Linked DNA regions of Homo sapiens. The protein of the gene in region 2 purifies or fractionates together with the protein of the main gene of each other region. This does not show direct contact. Each region holds a gene or a part of one and is shown on either strand. Other genes may lie near its edges. The genes, in order: VAPA, OSBPL11 and VAPB.

What was found.
Region 1: the proteins of OSBPL11 (region 2) and VAPA purify together in Homo sapiens (co-immunoprecipitation; 5 studies listed by BioGRID and IntAct, with this or other methods). This does not show direct contact.
Region 3: the proteins of OSBPL11 (region 2) and VAPB purify together in Homo sapiens (affinity purification with mass spectrometry; 6 studies listed by BioGRID and IntAct, with this or other methods). This does not show direct contact.

The regions. Positions count from the first base shown.
Region 1 is NC_000018.10:9,945,000-9,952,111, reverse strand, and holds part of VAPA (vesicle-associated membrane protein-associated protein A), read right to left. Parts: coding exon of another isoform or gene 7,054-7,112; intron 1,718-7,053; coding exon 1,544-1,717; intron 1-1,543. UniProt on the Homo sapiens protein: Endoplasmic reticulum (ER)-anchored protein that mediates the formation of contact sites between the ER and endosomes via interaction with FFAT motif-containing proteins such as STARD3 or WDR44.
Region 2 is NC_000003.12:125,585,400-125,592,511, forward strand, and holds part of OSBPL11 (oxysterol-binding protein-related protein 11), read right to left. Parts: intron 1-7,112. UniProt on the Homo sapiens protein: Plays a role in regulating ADIPOQ and FABP4 levels in differentiating adipocytes and is also involved in regulation of adipocyte triglyceride storage. Weakly binds 25-hydroxycholesterol. Interacts with OSBPL9 to function as lipid transfer proteins.
Region 3 is NC_000020.11:58,434,205-58,441,316, reverse strand, and holds part of VAPB (vesicle-associated membrane protein-associated protein B/C), read right to left. Parts: intron 6,716-7,112; coding exon 6,612-6,715; intron 2,373-6,611; coding exon 2,292-2,372; intron 2,172-2,291; exon of another isoform or gene 2,009-2,171; intron 411-2,008; coding exon 234-410; exon of another isoform or gene 233-233; intron 1-232. UniProt on the Homo sapiens protein: Endoplasmic reticulum (ER)-anchored protein that mediates the formation of contact sites between the ER and endosomes via interaction with FFAT motif-containing proteins such as STARD3 or WDR44.

The DNA.
Region 1 (7,112 bases), on a different chromosome or scaffold from region 2:
CTTCTCCCCTCCCTGCCAGAGGTAAACAGTGGCTTTTGAAAGAAATCTATTGAGCACCCTAAGGAGCACATCTTTATCAAAGAACAGAACTATGGAAGTCATGGCAGATGAAGTAAAAGTAACCAACAACATCCTTTAAAAGATCCATGGCGTGTAGGTGTGAAATAAAGATATTCTTTCCGCTACCCAGACAAGTGCTTGGAAGCAGACGGGTACCCCTCGAGGGGGTACTATGAAACATCAAGCATGAAGAGACACAAAAATTCACTTTAAAAAGCATTTCAGCAAAGGAGTTCACAGATCGACTTAAAACACAGTGCCTTTAATTTAGAGTGTAGTTCCTACATACACCTAACAAAAGGAATAATCAAATAACTCCCATCATTTAGCTTATTTTAGTTACATACATTTTTGTATCATCTACTTTGCTGCAAAGAGCTTCAAACAAAGCCTAGAGAGCAACGTATAGGTATTTAGGTCTTGAAACAAGTAATTACTTGTCAAAGACAAATTATTCATAAATTTCAGACATATTCAAATCAGTCCTCCTTCGCCATCCATTTAATTCAATCAAATACATGAATGACTACCACATGCATGTATGGTGAATGCAGAGATAAATGAAGCACTGCCCTTGCCACCAAGGCAATTACTGCCCACTAGAGGGAGAAAGGCCTCTAACAAGTAAGAGCAGTAGAAGGCGATCAGCATAGTGGAGGCACAAAGCAGACATGACAAATCGATTTTTTTCTTCTTTTGGAGAGGGTCCCAGCAAAGGCTATATGCTGTAGTAGCAAAACGTCAATGTGTGTATGTGCTGTGTCGGGAGGGGCAGGGTTCTGGGCCTTTCCAGTCACAGTGAAGAGCTTACACTAAAGCAAAGAGGGGTGATAAACAGATGCTTCTCCAGCATACTCCAGCCCAATGCTGCCCCACGCAAATACAATGTGAGCTTCAAATGTGAGCCCCGTATGTAAAGTTAAATTTTCCAACAGTACATTTAAAAAGTAAAAAGAAATGGGTAAAATTCATTTTAATAATATATTTGATTCAACCCAATATACCCAAACTACTATTTCAGTATGTAACCATTAAAAAAAAAAGATTTTACCTTTTTCTGTACTAACTCTTCAACATCAGTATTTTACACTCAACAGCACAGCTCAATTTGAACAAATCCCATTTCAGTGCTCAACAGCCCTAGGTGACTAATGGCTATGATGTGGGACAACACAATCCTAGGCAGTTCAGTATGACTAGGGCACAAAATGGGAAGGACATGAGAAACAAGAGCAGAAGCTGGCAATACTGCAGGCCAGATCACAAATAATTAGAATGTGTGCTAAAGTAAGGAACTTGCAGCAATGAGAAACCACGGGAAGACTGTTAAAAGAGGAGTAGGGTGGGGAGCAAAGGCACTGGGGCAAAGAAGAAAGAACTGACCAAGCAAAAATTTAAAAGCTAATTGCTAAAATGGCCTAATAACACTCACATGTCCTATACCTTCATTTCAATCAATTTATTTTCAACCAACAGAACTTACTCTCAGGTGCCGATTTTCTTCTGATAGCTTCATCATTTCTCCCTGAAGTCTTTTACACTCTTCCATTAGTTTCCTTGTTTCGGTATCATTAAGTGAAACACTGTGTGGTTTTGGCATAGGTCCATCTTGCTTAGATGCATTCAGTGGAACAGCTTTGCTAGGTTCCATATCATTCTGCATTACAAAGATATTGGGAATTTTTTAACTAACCAAATCTCCTTACAGGTTTTAAACAAATAACAATATAAATTCTACATCTTTGTTCATGAAAAACTCTTTAAAAGGCCTAAATCAGTACATGTCAGCAGTCAGATTAGTCTAAATAACCAGCCCACTCCCTCTATTCCCATAATCCCTGGCACGTACCTCTACCATAGCACTTTATTATGTATCTTAATAATTATTGTTCAAGTTCTTTCCTGTAATACTTCAAAGGCTGAGAGAGCAAGAGCCATCTCTCTTTGTATTTACCCCTAAAACCAGCACTTTGGTCAAGAGTAGTTATTCAATGAAAGTATGCTGAATGACGTCAACAAAATCCATTGAAGGTCATTTTCCGTGCTCTGGTTGTGCAATTCAAATAAGGTTCTGGGGGGTAGGGGGATATTATCGTAATCATTCCAATAAAATCGGAAACTACCTAAGAAAAAACATGCCCAAGAAAAGCTAACTTCTATTAATTTGTCATCTTTAGTAATGCTGTTTGCTTTAATTCACGTGATTCAACATCACAGGAGCACTTAGCATGCTTTGAAGACTATGAGCCCCAAAATCTTAATCCTCACCAACATTGAACCATTTGAAGCTAGTGAAGGCCTGGAGATAAATATCTATGACAGCACCTATGTATTCTTCAGCCCGTTGTCTAAAGTACCCCAACATCCTTCACTCCAACAGCATTTATGTCACCACACATCGTAGCAGTATTAGTGTAACAAGCTTTTTTCATTTTAATTAAATTCACTTACTTTAAAATAATTTTAGGTAAAATCTGCTTTATTCAGCTATAAACTGCTAAAAAAGACATTTACTAAATCAACTTTATGGCATTCCACAATACTCATTTTATAAGATTTATCAGAGGCTGCACACCTACCACACCATCCCAGCTGCCAATTTTATATTAAGTATAAACAGATTGTTCAAAGGGCAAAACTTGTTATTCTTATGAAGGGGATGTGATTTGATTAGTATGCCTAAATCCATGTAAAATCTATTTAAAAATGAAAATTTATAATGAGGTTCTAATGAACAACAGCATGTATGTGACCTGTCGGCAGACTCTTCCATTCTTCTTCAAGCTTCCCAGTTAAGCAACGTTTTAAAGCAGCCTACTTCAATTCTCTGAGTTTTTCTCTTGCTAGCTTTTTTGTTCTTCACCCCCATTTCTCCCACCCCAACCAATCTAATAATAGCCGCCCCTATTATTAAAAAACTGTTTCAGATATATTTTACCCTGCCAATACTTTTTCCTGTTCTTTTCCTTAATAGTAGTTAGAACTCATTTGTGATTTTCAGTGTGGTCAAATTCTATCCTAGCACAAATCCAACTTCTGATAATGAGGTTGGCACACTGACTTACTCTATAAAGGAGGTGGCAATGGCCACCAATATGGCAATAGAAGAACTTTCAGGTTTTGGTTAAAAATTGGGAAAAAGTATCATACTCATACCAGAAAACTGATAAAAACTTAAAGAGGATGAAGCAGGGCACCATGTCTGATGTCTGTAATCCCAACACTTTGGGAGGCCGAGATGGGTGGCCTGCTTGAGCCCAGGAGTTCAAGAACAGCCTGAGCAACAGAGGGAGACCCTGTCTCTACAAAAAACAATTTTAGAAATTAGCCAGGCATGGTGGTGTGCACCTGTAATCTCAGCTACTCATGAGACTGAGGTGGCTTGAGCCCAGGAAGCGGAGGTTGCAATGAGACGAGATCGTGCCACTGCACTCCAGCCCAGGTGAGAGTGAGACCCTATCTCCAAAAGGGGGAAAAAAAGATATACATGGGGTCAACACCAAAGAGAAAAAAAACTAAAAGAATCATCAAGCTCGACAACTGATTATTTTTAAATTCTTTACATTGCATAAAATTTTAAATTACGGAGGGAAGGGAAAAAGTCATTTCTCACAATCTTGTCAAATCAACAAAACTATTATTTATATTACTATTATTAAATGACATGTCATTAAATATTCTATTCTATGCCTTGCCAAAATTAAACATTTCACTTTTGTTAAGCATTTGATGGGCAGCTTTCCATTCTTTCAAATTTTAAATAACATGTCCATAGGAAGACATTCCATAAAAAGATAACTAGATTGGAATTAGATTTAGATTTTTCTAATTCTAATAGAATTAGACTTGGAATTAGATTAGAATTTATCTAAGCAAATAGAATTAGATTTTTTTGTTGTTGAATTTCTCTTAAAAATGTTATACTGCTTTTGTAACAAAAAGGAGAAGAAATGATAACCAATATGTGGAGCATAAACAGAATAGAATGCAAAGAATACAGTGAAGCCGAAACACATTTCAAAAGTGTGCCCAATAAGTTATATCACATACTACCTAGGCCCCTTACAAACCAGTGAACATACATAACAGGTGCAAGAAAATCTAATTTATTTACATATACATATGCTACATATGTATATGTTATGCTATATATGTATATGTAATGGGGGGAAGTGTGATGGGAGGGTGGGCTTTGAGTCATGCATGGAGTGACAATCTGAAGAGCCTGATGGAAAAAATTAAGCAGGTGTAACTTTAAGTATATGCTTCCATCCAGGACCTCTATTAGTGAGGTTTGGCTCCAATAAAACAGCTTGTTTCTTGAGAGTTGCTTCAAACTGGTCCAGAAAGAAAAGACTGGTTGTTCTGAGAACCATGAAACAAGCACACCAGAGAGATTCAACATGCTGTGACTCTTAGTAAATTGATGAATGGTAACCTTACATTTAACACTGCAATTCAGAATAAGCTGGAAGGTCAAGGTGTGTATCAACTAAAACAATAAACCAATCTTGTCCAGTTTCCACTATATTATTTAGCCTATCTGCAGTAATCCTCCATCTGAGTTGTCCAGTCATGTTCTGTATAATGATGTTTTGGTCAACAATGATTCATACATATGATAGTGTTCCCATACAATAATAATGGCACTGAAAAATTCCTATTACCTAGTGAGGTCTTATCACAATACATTATTCACGTTTGTGGTGATGCTGGTGTAAATATACATACTGTACTCCAGTCATATAAAAGTATTGCACATATGATTTATGTACAATACAGAATACTTGGTAATAAATGACTATGTTACAGGTTTATGTATTTACTGTTATGCTTTTTATCATTTATTTTAGAGTGTACTCCTTCTACTTACGAAAACAAAAAGGACACTCTAAGTCAGACTCCAGCAGGTCCTTCAGGAGGTATTCCAGAAGACACTGTTAACATAGGAGATGTCAGCTCCATGAGTGTTACTGTCCCTGAAGACATTACAGTGAGACAGGATGTGGAGGTGGAAGGCAGTGATACTGATGATCCCGCCCCTGTGCAGGCCTAGACTAATGTGTGTGCTATGTCTTAGTCTTAAGAAAAGAAGTTTTTTTAAAAATCTTATTTAAAAAATAGAAAAAGGCAGCGAATAAGGACATTAAAAAGATATTTTTATTTATCTATACACTGTGCTTGTGCTTTATGTCAAAAATTTTAATTTTACAGTTTATGAAGTTACGGACAGCTAAGATTAAAGAAAAAAATTTTAATAAATGTAGCCTAAGTGTACAGTGTTTATAAAGTCTACAGTGTACAGTAATGTCCTAGGCCTTCCCATTCACTCACCACTCATTCACTGACCCACCCAAAACAACTTCCAGTTCTGCAAGATCCATTCACAGTAAGTGCCCTATGCAAGTATACAATTTTATCTCTTATGCCATATTTTTGCTGCGCCTTTTCTGTGTATAGTCACGGGTGTCCAATCTTCTGGCTTCCCTGGGCCTCACTGGAAGAAAAATTGTCTTGGGCCACACATAAAATACACTAACACTAACACTAACTAATGAGCTATTAAAAAAAAAAAATCACACAAAAAAAAACTCATAGTGTTTTAAGAAAGTTTACGAATTTGAGGTGGGCCGGATTCAAAGCCATCATGGGCCACGTGTGGGCCGCAGGCTGCAGGTTGAATAAGCTCAGTGTAGATTGTTTCGATACACAAATACTTACCATTGTAGTACAGCCACAGGCTATACAAGTCTGTAGCCTAGGAGCAAAAGGCAATACCATATATAGGTTTTTGTAAGTACACTCTATGATGTTTATACAACACATCACCTAACAACACATTTCTCAATATATATCCCCATCCTTAACAGATGCATGACTGTACTTCTGTATTCTTTTTTAACCATCAGAATTTCAGTTCTAATATCCCAAGTATTTTTACTGGGGGTTAATTAGAAAAAGAGGGAACTAGGAATTGGAAATACAAGAAAAAGTTTGCAAAGAAGCCTTGGGAAGAACAAAGGAGATAAAAGACATAAACGTGGGCCTACATTCTTACAACTAACAGGAGTGATGGATAAAAACGCACATAAAGGGAGTTAAAAGGCTAAAGTCAAGAGTACTGTCATAAACCGAGAGAGGCAAAATTAAGGTCTTAACCTATGAATTAAGAGACAGGATTTAAGTAACAAAGTTACCTGAAGTTTTTTTTTCCCACTCTAAACAGCCAATTTACTGTTTCTTTAGGATCATGACTCCCAGAAGTAAATAATTCCCAATCACAAAAACAAAAAATTATTAAACATTTAGATAATTTTTTAAAGCCTTAGTATGCATATCATCTGCAAAACCAAATCAAAGTATAAACAATCTGTTAAAACTGTGGGGTTGCCACATGTGGTGGCTCACGCCTATAATCCCAGGACTTTGGGAGGCCAAGGCAGGTGGATCACCTGAGGTCGGAGTTTAATGAGACCAGCCTGGCCAACATGGTGAAACCCCATCTCTACCAAAAAAATACAAAAATTAGCCAGGCATGGTGGCACGTGCCTGTACTCCCAGCTACTCAGGAGGCTGAGGTGGGAGAATCCCTTGAACCGGGGAGGCAGAGGTTGCAGTGAGCTGAAATTGTGCCATGCACTCCAGCCTGGGTGACAGAGCGAGACTCCATCTCAAAAAAAAAAAAAAAAAAAAAAAAAAAAGAGTATATTCCCCAAATCTCAAAGAAAAAAATTACAGCAACTTCATAATGTTCACACTTATACTGTCCTGCTCACTATATAGATTTTAGTTAAGTTCAGAAGTTTTTTAGAACAGAATAGTTTGTATGCATGATTTTTAAGTGCTTTGTAGTTTTATTGTAATTTTAGGCATAGTTCAATTCTATCTACTTCATACAACATACTCACAATACCACTTATCTGCTAGGTATCTACATTAACTTAACCATTGACACTAGTAGACTCCTAAGTCTGTTAACTCCCTATAACAAACCTTCTGTTTCTCCTGTTTCAACACACTGAGTCCCCTGGGGTCATCCTTCGTGTGATAAC
Region 2 (7,112 bases):
TGCTGGGATTATAGGTATGAGCCACTGTACCTGGCTCTAAGTGTATCTTCATATTTCACATCATAGTAATGTTCTGTTTAATTTTCTAATGTTATTAATATTTTGCTGATTCATATATCTAAAGAGTTAGCTTTCTGAAAAAAAAAAAAACAAAACTATAAGGATATTGACATGGTTTATTTGGTAGTAGCATAAAGTTAGTTTCAAAAGAGGCAGAAATTCAAGTAAGTAAACTGCTGGCTTATTTTTATTATATAAAACAGCTGTCTCCAGGTTACAAAGAACCAACTTGAAAACATCCTATTCTTTGGAACAGCTGGTTGCAATGTCCCTCCCTCATTCTTCCCCTTTTCCATGTATCCCAAGAAATAGCCACTATCGAAGGCAACCAGCTGGTGTGGAACAACTGTGCCATCTGGTGGTCAGCATAAAAAGTGCTCTGTGACTGAACATCTGATTCACACTTTCTTTTCTTCTACTGTCTTATAATTGAGTTACTACACAGTATCTCTAACTCTCATGCTTTATTCCTATCTAAAATGTGTGAATTTTCAGGGCCTGGTGTAGTGCCTCATGCCTGTAATCTCAACACTTTGGGAGGCCAAGGTGGGACAATTCCTTGAGTCCAGGAGTTTGAGACCAGCCTGGGCAACATAGGGAGACCCACCCCATCTCTAAAAACAGTAAATAAAATAAAATGTGCAAATTTTTATAGAATATTTTTAATGTGTGTCTGTTAATATTAATAAAATCTAGCTACTGAAGTGGGAACATACCACATATCTGATTATATTATACTATTTTGTGTTCTATAAAATAGAAGTGATGGTCCAAAACAGACTAATACACTAAAAAATAAGCTATGATAAAGTTAATTTCTTCTTCAGTCCTCCAAAAACTTCACTGCTCAAGAAACTGGGTATATTTCTAATCTTTTAAACTTGTTAACATTTAATTGGGATTAGTAGTGGAAGCTGATAGTCTATAAAAATAACTGATTAAACTGTGCTAAGTGGCTTTATTATATTGTGTTTAGTTTGATACTCATTTTCTCTTAAATATCTTAAAAATAACTGCTTCAATTCTTTAATCTCCATTACTATAACATACATATTTCTTTTTTTTTTTTTTGAGATGGAGTCTCGCTCTGTCACCCAGGCTGGAGAGCAGTGGTGCAATCTTGGCTCACTACAACCTCCGCCTGCTGTGTTCAAGTGATTCTCCTGCCTCAGCCTCCCGAGTAGCTGGGAGTACAGGTGCGTGTGTGCCACCATGCCTGGCTACTTTTTCTATTTGTAGTAGAGACGGGGTTTCATCATGTTGGTCAGGCTGGTCTCGAACTCCTGACCTCGTGATCCGCCTGCCTCGGCTTCCCAAAGTGCTGGGATTATAGGCGTGAGCCACCGTGCCCGGCAATATACTTATTTCTCAACCTTTCTTTATCAGACTTAAGATAGATAAAAGTTTTTAAAATTAAGCTACCTTTTAAACAGTTTCAAATCCTTTCAACTCAAAACAATTACTCAATACCTACTAAAGCACAGCACTCTGAAAAACCATTGAAAAGCATAAGAAAATCAAAAAGGCAATAACTAATAACTCTCCATCTCAAATCTATAATCTAATCTAAGAGAAATATATCTCCTTGAAGAAAAAGGCAGTAACATGGGTTCCTGCTACTGGAAAAGACACACAATGGGACTACATTTGCAGCTGCCATACAAATAAAAAAGGCATTAAACAAATACAGAGGATTCAGTAGTGAGTGAGAAGGCTGAAATGACTAGATTTGATGACTGATTAGATGTGAAGTGAGACAGAAAGAATGAAAGTGAGAGAGAAAGGACAAGAGCAACACTCAGATTTCCAGCTGGAACAACTGGGTGGATAACTAATGCCTTCACTGAGATAGGGATCGCAGAGAAATTTTGGATTTGTTCCAACTTAAGATGTTAAATTTAATGAACCTGCAGGACTATACAGGGAGATATCCAGTAAGGCAGCATGATTAGGGCTTGGTAGTCATCAGCATATAAGCATATAACTGGTATTTGAAGTTACAGCAGTAAATAAGGTCACTCAGGAAGTATTACGAAATGGCAAGAGATGGGCAGGGTCTAAGAGAGATCTCTAAGGAAAAGTTTTAAGGGCAAGGGGAATACAGAGAAGAAATCAGGAACAACTGAGTAGTGGGAAGAAAACTAGGAGTATGGAAAGACAGAAACCAGAGAAAGTGTTTCAAGATAAGTCTGTGGTCAAGAATATTCAGTGGGCAGGTGCCTTCACTCACACCTGTAATCCCAGCACTTTGGGAGGATCACTTGAGCCAGGAGTTTGAGACCAGCCTGGGCATCACAGTGAGATCCTGTCTCTACAAAAAAAATTAAAAATTAGCCAGGCAGGGTGGCACACACCTGTAATCCCAGCTACTCAGGACACTGAGATGGGAGGATTGCTTGAGCCCAGGAAGTGGAGGCTGCAGGGAGCTGCAATCGTGCCATTGCACTCCAGCCTGGGAAACAGAGCAAGACTCTGTCTCAGGCCAGGCACAGTGGCTCATGCCTATAATCCCAGCACTTTGGGAGGCTGAGGTGGGTGGATCACTTGAGGTCAGGAGTTCAAAACCAGCCTAGCCAACATGGTAAAACCCTATCTCTACTAAAAATACAAAAATTAGCTGGGCGTGGTGGTGCATGCCTGTAGTCCCAGCTACTTGGGAGGCTGAGGCAGGAGAATTGCTTGAAACTGGGAGGCGGAGGTTTCACTGAGCCAAGATCCTGCCACTGTACTCCAGGCTGGGCGTCAGAGTAAGACCCTGTCTCAAAAAAAAAAAAAAAAAAAAAGAGAAGTTCAGTGCTACTGATAAAGTAAGATATGACAAAGACTGAGAAGACTCATTAGACTTAAAACCCAGAGATAACAGTTTAATGGAATGATGAGGGCAGTCAGCTGGAAGTAACATCAGAGGTTGACGATAATGTCAAGAGGTTCTCCAGCTTGTAGACAACTGAGCTATGGGATTTCTCAGGCTCCACAGTCATATGAGCCAATTCCTCATAATCTCTCTCTATATATATCTACCTATTGGTTCTATTTTCCTGGAAAAGCCAAATAGCGATACCTTAAGGTATTTAACTACAGGCAGGAATCCAAGTTGTAGTCAGTAAATATGAGGTACCAGGCAAGTCACATGTCAAAATCCATACTTTCAACTAGGCAAAAAGTATCCTCCCAAAAGGCTTAGCACTTTGGTCCATTCTCTGGATAAGAAATAGCATGAAGCGGGGAGTGGCTTGCTTAGCTGAGGAAAAGGCTAATGACATTAAGAGATATTCCTCGCAACAGCTAGTGTGTAGCCTGGGATATAATGTTTATTTGCTGAATGAATTAAGCAATGGGAAGAAAGAAACAGAATTTTTCTATGAAGCCATGAGGCAATTCTCAGTAACCTGCCCACCTCCTCCCCAAAAAATTCAACTCGCAGACTGTATACTCAAAATCGCAAACAAAATAAAGTCTAACTGTATTTTAATCTATGACAAAAAGTATAAAGTCAAGAGAGGGGTCCTCCCTCCTGCCAAGAGTCTTAAAAATGTTAGCACTCTTTGGCCCTAGAATTTCACTTTTAGGTATCCCATCTATGACAAATGATTAGAAATGTAGACAAAGCCGGGTGCGGTGGCTCACGCCTGTAATCCCAGTACTTTAAGAGGCCTAGGCAGGCAGATCGCCTGAGGTCAGGAGTTCGAAATCAGCCTGGCCAACATGGTGGAACCCCGTCTCTACCAAAAATATAAGAATTAGCCGGGTGGCACCTGCCTGTACCCAGCTACTCGGGAGACTGAGGCACAAGAATCGCTTGAACCCAGGAGGCAGAGGTTGTGGTGAGCCAAGATTGCACCATTGTGCTCTAGCCTGGGCAACAAGAGTGAAACTCCATCTCAAAAAAAAAAAAAAAAAACAAAACAGAAAAGATATGTAGTGCAAAAATGTAAGGAAACTAAGAAATCACAGCACATTATTAATAAACCAACTCTTGCTCCTCAAGACTTGGTATATTTTTAACTAGATTTTGGAATAATATTTTATAGTTTCCAGTTACATGCCTACAATTATCTTTCTCTTGTTTTTACCAGCATCTATAGCAGATGTCAGATACAGAAAACAAAAACTAGAGTGTAGAAATATGTATCAATTTTCCTTTAACCCCTGCAGAGGAAAAAAAAAAAAAAAGCAGACATTTATGACTTTTTCTTCAAATCAACTCAGAAGAAGAGGTAAAACCTCTAAGACCATGAACATTCATTTATATTTAGGCCAATCTCATTTTCCCATCCGCGAACAGGCACTTTTCCTTATAATAGTATTGACAGTGGAAGAAACCACAAAATTATTGTGGTCTGACCACAAAAATTATTTCTATACTACACATTTGCAGACTTTTACACATTTACTGAAAAGTATAGCTGTTTGCTAATGAGGAAAATAGATTTATCTGTTAATATGATTAGCCAGTGAGGAGCTCAAAATTTTAAAAAAAAGCAGGCCATCAAACACCCTGGTTTGTCTTTCAGTTCCTCTTTTGAATAGTTCTCTTCTGCCCATTTTAATAAGCAGGTGGCATATTTGCAGATTTGTGAATTTCTCTACAAGCTGACATGAAGAATACAAAAATAATGAAAACATGCATATTTTATAAAGTGTGAATATTCACTATGAAAAAGGAAGGAAAGACCCAGAACTGGGAAATCTATCTTCTCTGTAAATGGTAAAGAAAGCTCACATCATATGAATATAAATTACTCTGGAAACAAGAAAATACAAGGCTAATCTAATAAATTAAGTTCTTAAGTTTAATTTTTCAAAAGGGCCAGGCACGGTGGCTCACGCCTGTAATCCTAGTACTTCAGGAGGCCGAAGTGGGTGGATCACTTGAGGTCAGGAGTTTGAGACCAGCCTGGCCAACATGGTGAAACCTCATCTCTACTAAAAATACAAAAATCAGCCGGGTGTGGTGGCAAGTGCCTGTGGTCCCAGCTACTTGGGAAGCTGAGGCAGGAGAATCGCTTGGACTTGAACCTGGGAGGCAGAGGTTGCAGTGAGCTAAGATCTGCCACCGCACTCCAGCCTGCACAAGAGGACCAGACTCTGTCTCAAAAAAAAAATTTTTTTTTTCAAAAGGTCATCATGAGATTGTTTTGTAAATGCCACTGATGCCCTTCCTTTTCCTGATTATTTTGATGATCCTCCTAAAATAAGCCTTAGAATTCATTCTTTCGTTGTTTTGGGTGTGCACATTAATTTGGCATTAATAAAAGAGTGCTTCAGACATAGTAGAGACTCAAAAATATTTGCTACATAAGTTAGAACATGAGTAAACCATAAAACCAACCATGTACCAAACTAGTTATTATCAATAATTATTCATTCCTTTTAGAGAGTTTATCTACTTTTAATACCTCTATGTAAATATCTATCTAGAAATAAAAGTTCTCCCACTTACTAGCTATGTAACCTTAGCTACATGCAATATATAACTTCATGTACTATATTGCCTAAGTCTATATTGTCATTTAGACTTAGGTTTTCTTCAACTGCAAAACAGGAATAATAATGCTGTATCTTCCTCCAGAGTTGGGAGGATTAAATGTGATAACAGATGTGAAAACATTCTGGATAATGTAAAGACAATTATCTACATTTCCAATACTCCATATCTCTGAGGACTGGCTAGATAAGACACTTAAACATTCTGGCAACTTTAGCTGGACATACCTAAAACCAGATACATAATTTGACTCCCCAAGTCCGTTTTCCCCTCTAGTCTTTACAATCTTGAGTCTATTATATTAACTGCCTAGGCATTTTCTGGCATAAATCCCAATAATCCCCACCTGCTGGTATTCTCACACCCTTGTGTGGGACTTGTTTCTGAAGAACAGTGAAAAGTGATGTGAATTCACCTCAGTGCTTAGGTTACAAAAGACTGTTAACTTCTCTCCAGGTAGCACTCTCTAGTCCTCTTACCTCCTCATTCTCAAGAAACAAGCTGCCAAGTTGTAAGATGCTCTGTGAAGAAGCCCATGTGGCCAGTGAACAAAGGAGGTCTCTGGCCATCAGTTCATGAGGAACTGAGTTTTTTGTCCAATGGGCCAAAAGGAACTGAATTGCACCAAGAGTCTCATGAATCAGCTAGGAAATGAATCCTTCCCAGTTCAGTCTTAAGAAAGACTCAGAGCCAGAAGACCCAGCTAAGCTGCACTGAGATTCCTGACCCAAAGACACTATGAAATAATAAATGCTGCTAATATATTAAATTTGGGGGTAATTTGTAATGCAGTAGTAGATACACTATCTCACACTGTATTTCAAAATAAATTCCAGATAGATTAAAAAGTTAAATATGAGCCTGGGCAACATCGCAAGATCCTGCCTCTAGAAAAAAATTTTAAAATTAGCTGGGCATGGTGGTGTACACCTGTAGTCCCAGCTATTCCAGAAGCTGAATAGGAGGATCACTTGAGCCTAGCAGTTCAAGGCTGCAGTGAGCTATGATGGAGACACCACACTCAACCCTGGGAGACAGAGAGAGACCTTGTCTCAAAAAAAAAAGTTAAATTGTAAAACTACCAAATTATTTTAAAACTTCATGAAAACAACTATTTATTTAACTATTTTTGAGACAGGGTCTTGCTCTGTCACCCAGGCTTGAGTGCAGTGGCACAATCACAGCTCACTGGAGCCTAGAACTCAAGCAATCCTTCCACCTCAGCCTCCTGAGTAGGCATGCCACCATGCCTGGCTAATTTTTTAATTTTTTGTAGAGATGGGGTCTCTCTATGTTGCCCAGGCTAGTCTCAAACTGCTGGGCTCAAGTAATGCTCCCACCTCAGCGCCCCAAAGTGCTAAGGATCAACACTTTGGGTGAGCTACAGTGCCAGCCAAAACCAAGTACTTATAAAAGTTACTTTTTATAATTAGAAATGGATGGAAAAGAGGAATAAGAGGTCTGACTTAAAAGTTTTCTGTGTGTCAAAAAAAATGAAATTAAATCTGAGGACTAGTGAAATATTTGCAGAAAGTATAGCAAAGAATTTATACAAAATTAAAAT
Region 3 (7,112 bases), on a different chromosome or scaffold from region 2:
CAACAGTTGAGAAATTTCTGATCAAGGGACAGTGGTTCTTAATTTAGGCAGATCCAAGGACCCTTTTGAGACTCTCATGAAAGCCATGGAAATTTCTCCCTGGGGAGAAAAAAATAGCCAAATACCAAAAGCAAAAAGAAATCTATATATTCACTGGCTCATCAACTTCCCCACCCAAGAAGCTAGTGAAAACGCCCTTGTTTTCTGTAGATTACCAGAAAATAAACTATTACCTTGAACTGCTTGTTCTCCTCCCGTAGCCTCTGAACTTCACCTTGCAGCCTCTTACATTCTTCCATAACCTTCTTAACTTCGGTGTCATCCAAAGAAGAACTCAGAGACTTAGACACTATTGGTGTTTCTGTCTTTGATGCAGTTGTGGATATAATTTTATTTATTTCTACATCATGCTGTTCAAAAACAAATGAAAGCCTAAGTGTCACCGACCATGTAATAATGGACTTTTTTATGCAAAGTAAAGTAGTTCTCAGCAAACACCAAACGTGGTAGCATTTCATCCACACTGTAAAATGTCACATTTATTTTAAAAATGGATTACTTTATCTGATATCTTAATAATCTAAAGCAACAGGGCCCTAGAAATTATGGATAAGGGCAAATAATGAAGTTCGGCTGAGACTAATACTTCAAAGAAAGAGAAAAAGGGCTGTGTATATTGCACTATCAAATTCCTGCCACGGAAAAATCAGCATACTGTAATTGTGCAAGCTCAGGAATTATTAGCCACAAATTACTGTCACCACAAAGATGTGAACATCCCTAGGATTGCCTTAGTGGGGTTAGGAGGCTTGGGAGAGCATTAGACAGAGGGCGAATTACTTTACCAACTTAGCATTTGGAAGCTGGGATGAAGGTGAAACAAACTCAGTGTCTGCAATGTTTCAATCTTGGGAAGTTACATACTCCCCTTATTTCCCCTGCCAAGATTCAGCTATGATCCCCTCTTGAGATTTACAGGGGATGAGAGCCAGTCAGTGGAGGGAGGGCATGGAAGCACGCAGCTTGTCAGGGAAAGAGTAACTGACGATCATTGGCCTGGAATCTAGCTCTACCCATCATTTTCCAGATGAGAAGAGTAGGCCCTGTGAAGCAAGGCCCCAGGCTACCAAGTCAACCTATCACAGAGCTGAGGCCAGAATACTGCTTTCACAGCTTCCAAACTGACCTTCCTGTGACAGGATGTACACTGGGAAGAGGGAAAAAATGACCACTATCCACTTAAAGAAACAGGGTAATGATAGTGGTAAATGATTCAGCAGAAATAAAATCTCAGGTAGTTTTGACACAAATCAACAGCACTCGCGCAGACCAACATAGATACTGTTAACACAACATTTCAGGGTACTTCTGTTTCCCAACTCCAGCTATTAATGGCTAGGATAGTTTCACATGCTGCATGCTTTCACAGTTTTGGTGTTTTTATAAAAATTAAAATGTTTTCGACTAGGTTGAAGGGAAGTCCAAATTAGCATTTCAGATACAGTCTCCTTTCTTCAACTGGTCACAAGTGAGGATCATGAAAGGTAAAGCGCTCACAGTGGACAGCCTAGAGGATGGGGCTCCTTCCTTCTCCCCACAGGCAACACCGGAATGGGATCACTCTCAATGGGGGTTGATATTGCCCTCCAGGACACATGTGGCAATATCTGGAGACATTTTTAGTTGTCACAACTGGGAAGTACTACCAGTATCAAGAGGGCAGAAGCCAGGGATGCTGCTATTAATAAAACACCCTACAGTACACAGGGCAACCTCCACCACCACCAAGGATTTGCCCCAAATATCAACAGTGTTGAGGCTGAGAAATCCTCATCTAAAAGCAGCCTTTGATTGAAGAGGTAGATAGGGTAAAAGGGGTAGGGAGGCTGACAGGGCACTTTGTAAAACAAGAGAACTTGAAAGCTTCCCACACGTCCATCAACCACCATGATAAAGGGCAAATTGTTCCCTCTTTCACTCTCACCCACTGTTTAACAGCAACCTATACCTTTGCCAGGCCACAGAAGCTCTTCAGGATTTATGACATCTCAATGGCCATCGGGCTGCACTTTTCAAGGGGAAACACTGTCAATCAGTTGTCTTTCCGTGAGTTTTTCAAAGGCTGATTTCATAAAGGCCCACTTATTTGCTGACTTCAGCTTATTTTTTTTCTTCAGACATCAGATAAAGGAAAATAATTTGCCAACTTAAATCTTGGTTTTGCAGGAAATGGTATGCAAATAAGTATCAGCTTACAACATTCAATTATTGTTAACTATAAATATACTTACTGGTTTATCATTCTCTGCTGGCAATTCAAACACACATCTAAGTTTTGAATCCATAAGGTCTTCCGGTTTTGCCTCCTTCCACTAAAACAATTTAAATTTAATAATCAAGATATTATAAACCTGCTGGAAGAATAACTTTCTTCCTATAACTGACAATTTCAGAAAAATACTCTTAATGAGAAAGCCCTGATGTATATCAAATAAAGAACTGAAGTCTGCTGAGATTTCAATATTTGTAACATGACAAGATTAAATACACTCACTTTCTCAAAATATTACACTTCATAAACCCTGAAGTCTTGCTGCCTGACTCCTCAAAGTCAACCAATGCTCCCCATGTTGCTACTCTGTGGGACAGGCCCACCACTGAACAAAAAGGAATCCTCTAAACAATGTCTGGATGACCAGGTAACCTTGGCTCTCCTTATGAAAATAAAACTTGTTTTCAGCTGGGCATGGTGGCTTATGCCTGTAATCCCAGCACTTTGGGAGGCTGAGGTGGAGGGACTGGTTGAGCCCAGCAGTTTGAGACCAGTCTGCACAACGTAAGGAGACGTCATCTCTACAAAAAAATTAAAAAATTAGCTAAGCATGGAGGCACATGCCTGTGGTCCCAGCTACTCAGGAGGCTGAGGAGGGAGGATCACTTGGGCCCAGGAGGTGGAGGCTGCAGTGAGCCATGATCATGCCACTGTACTCCAGGCTGGGGGACACTGAGAGACTCTGTCTCAAAAATAATAAATTAAATTAAAATGAGAAAATGAAACTTATTTTAAAGGCATATCTAGAAAGTATAAGCGCATACTATCTGGGACTAGTTTCAGAACCACTCTGCCAACTACCAACGGAACACATTCATTACCAAATCCCTCCTCTGTCACTGTGGCAGTGTGTGGGCTGTGTCTACCCCAAGACCCATCTCCATCCCTCCAGGCTGTAGTGAGAGCACCTTCCTAGCTAAATCCCATGTCCTAAGAGGATACGCTCCTGATTACTTCTCCTTTTGGCAGCAGAAGATGGGAATTCCAGGGTATTCTAGGATTACAGACCAGGATAGCAGCAAGGTTATGATATAGAAAAAGAAGGCACCCCCACCCTCCATGCCCTCAACCCTTCCCAAAACCATGCAAGAGGCAGCTACTGTAACACAGGTACCAAGAACCAAAAGTGGGAAGCAATCTATACATCTGACCCTAGGGGACTGCCACAAAAATTATGGCAGATCCACTAAACGGAACAGCATGCTGCCACTCAAATGATGCTGAAGAGCACTCAGTTAGATGGAGAAAATGTCCAGAATGTTAAGTGAAAAAATCGCAAAGAATACTGAAGTCTGCTCCTCTGCACACACACACCTGTACACGTGTGCCTACCACATAAGTCAAAAAAAATATCAAGCAAGGATCATCACTGAATGCTAAAAGCACCAGGTGAAAGACTGCTGGCGAGCAGGATATTCACATGGTCTCAAAGTATCAGATGACTCAGAGTATCACAGATTACCTATTAACCACAGGGGCAAATGTGCTTTGTGCTATGACAGTGGAGAGAGCTGGCAGTCACCATCTTAACCAAGTGATCAAACAGCATCACCAACAGCGGAACAACCTGGTATGAAATACCAACTATGGAATATTCTTGCCAAAACACATTTAACTTGAATTTAATCATGAGGAAATAATCAAATAAATCCAGAATACAGGACATTCTGTAAGTCAACTGGCCTGGACTCTTAAAAAAAAAAAGAAGTTCAAAGTTTGGGCAGGGTGCAGTGGCTCACACCTGTAATCCCAGCACTTCGAGAGGCAGAGGCAGGAGGATCACTTGAGCCCAGAAGTTCAAGACCAGCCTGGGCAACATAGTGAGACCCCAACTCTATAAAAAAATAAAAAAATAGCCGGCATGGTGGCATGCCTGTAGTTTTAGTTACTCGAACAGCTGAGGTGGAGGTCAAGCCATGACTGCACCACTGCACTTCAGCCTTGGTGACAAAGCAAGACTTTGTCTCAAAAAAAAAAAAAAAAAAAAAAAAAGTTCAAAGTTTGAAAAACAAAAAGGTTTGGGTGTCCTCTACTAAAGGTCACTTTTGGAACAACTAGGAAATAATGAATATGAATTTATCACATAATAATACTGAATTGAAGTTACTTTTTTCAGCTATGATTAATAGTATCATGACTATATAAGAGACTGTCCTTGCTCTGAAGCATTTAGGGGTGAAGTGTCATAAATTTGCATCTCAAGCAAATAAGAAAGTTTGTGACAGAAAGGAAGCAAATGTCACAACATGTTAACAAATGTAAATCTAGGTAAAAGTTATATGAGTGGTCACCATGCTATTTTTTCAACTTTCTGTATATCACAATAAAAAGAAAAACATTTTAAAATAAAGAAAAAGCAGGCTGGGGCAGTGGCTCATGCCTGTAATCCTACCACTTTGGGAGGCTGAGGTGGGCAGATCGCTTGAGTCCAGGAGTTTGAGACCAGCTTGGGCAACATGGAGAAAACCTGTCTCTACAAAAAAATTAGCCAGGCATGGTGGTGCGCTCCTGTGGTCCCAGCTACTTGGGAGGCTGAGGTGGGAGGATCACTTGAGCCCAGGAGGTGGAGGCTGCAGCGAGCTGAGATCACTCCACTGCATTCCAGCCTAGGTGACACAGTAAAATCATGTCTCCAAAAAAAAAAAAAAAAAAAAAAAGGAAGAAAAACACAAAGCTCTCATTTCTCATTAATGATGGTTAGGCCTAGTAGAAAAGAACTATGGGTCACTTTAAATTTTTTTCATTTGTGTATTTCCAAAATTTCCCACAATGTACATTTTATATAAAAAAAATTTAAACTTATATCATCATACAAGGAACTAAAATGACCCTTTACTAGATATGCAGTGACTGGCCTATTACACACTCTGATAAGCAAGTGTCAGACACTGGACCCACCAGGCACTTACACAGGCACACTTCATACTCACCACTGTGTGAGCTGCATTTTTATCCCTATTTTACAAATGATCAAAACCTCAACAGAGTTAATAAAACCTGCTCCCAGCCACAACGTCAGTAAAAGGAAGAACTCAGCTCGAAAACACCCAAGCCCATGCTCTTTTCACTATGCCATGCAGCAGAAGCCAAACAGAACACACCCTTGGATCTTCCATTATTTTCTATCTGCCATGTTTCTTTGATCACACAAATTAACATGAAGTAACACATCATGTTGCAGAAAATCAGAGAAAGTTTTCATAAGAATTGTTCTTATGAAAAGAAGACAGCCTATTATCACTGATCTCTCTAAAAGTCAAAAATATCTGGCCTCCTCCTTCATTTTCTGCCTACAAGTGAAACATCAGCGGAGATGCTTCTCCAGAACTTAAACAAAAGGCTATGTGGTGACATAGGGCATGGGGTGGTCTTGGCCTGAGTTGCCCTTGGTATGAAACTCAGACAGAGGAGAACTGCAGTATGGTGTGATGAACAGCGGACTCAGGTGGGCAGACCTGCCGTGGATGACTCGGGGCTCCCCTTTGGGCGGGCCAAAACTGGAGAGCAATGCAAGTGGTATGAGGCAACCCTGTCCTGCTTTCCTGAACTGTAAGGACAAGCGCATCTGTCCCTGCTGGGGCTGTGGGTTGTATTGTAGATTTCAATTCAACTCCCAGCCCCAGAATGCCAATGGACTTATTCAAATGTATAAAAAGCTCGTTTTGGAGGGAATGTCCATTATACTCTTTTTTTTTTTTCCAAAACCATCACTAACATCACTTATTTCTTTTATAAAAATGAAGTCATCTTAATTTTATCAAAATTAGAGAAAAGTTAAACATAGATTTAAGCAGGGGGGAAAATAAATAAGCATATTTACTAGAACAAAGCCACAAACATGTATGTCTAAATGGGTGAGGACATTCAGCACTGACACTCTCACATGGCTCTTGAGTTTGTGGGGGATGAGAAGACAAGTAAGAAAAAGGCGGGACAATGAAAAGTATCCTTTTCTGTCGGGGCAGAAAGGAGAGGCGAAAGAAGGCAATCCCTAACCATGCAAGACACCATCCACCAGTGCAAGGAGCTGCTGAAGCACACTGAGCTCAGGAAAGTCAGAAAAGAACAGCCTTCTAGAAAGTCACAAAAAATGTTAAAATTATTCCTCAAAGTTTTAGAAAAACCATAAAGGTAGATAAAGTACAAACCTCCTTGAAAAAAAACTATTCCCTTTTAAATAATTTTGACATATTTTGAAATGCATGCACCCACAATTCCATATCTAATTGGTTTTTTAAATTATTGTTACTGAAAAAAATAAGAAGCATTCAGTACTTACTACTGCTTCCATATCTGAAGTGTCAGTTGGAGCAAACATAGACTGAACCATAAACTTGTGTTTACTTTTCTCATTGGGATCATAATCGAAAGGCTGTAACATCACTGAGAAAGAAAATATTTCATTAGGAGGGTCAGAGCTTGGTTGTCAGTGCCATTTATTATGCTAATACTTGTACTTTGGTTGTAAAGCAATTTACCGGCATTCTCTTATGTCTTAGGATGGACGCCCCTGGTGAAGTAAGCAAGGATGACCAACATCTCCATTTTGCAGGTCACCAACCTAAGAGCCACAAAATCACGCATGACAGAGCTGGGAATAAGGCCGAGGACCCAGTCTTCTGATTCCTAGTCCATGGATCTTTCACTACTGCAAGCCTACCGTAAATGTCTGCTACAGGCCTTACAGAATTGGGAAACTGGGTAGCAACACCATCTGCCTGTTTTGCTCAAGAAAACATATCCAAATGATCTCTTCAGGAATTAAATAGAATAATCTAAG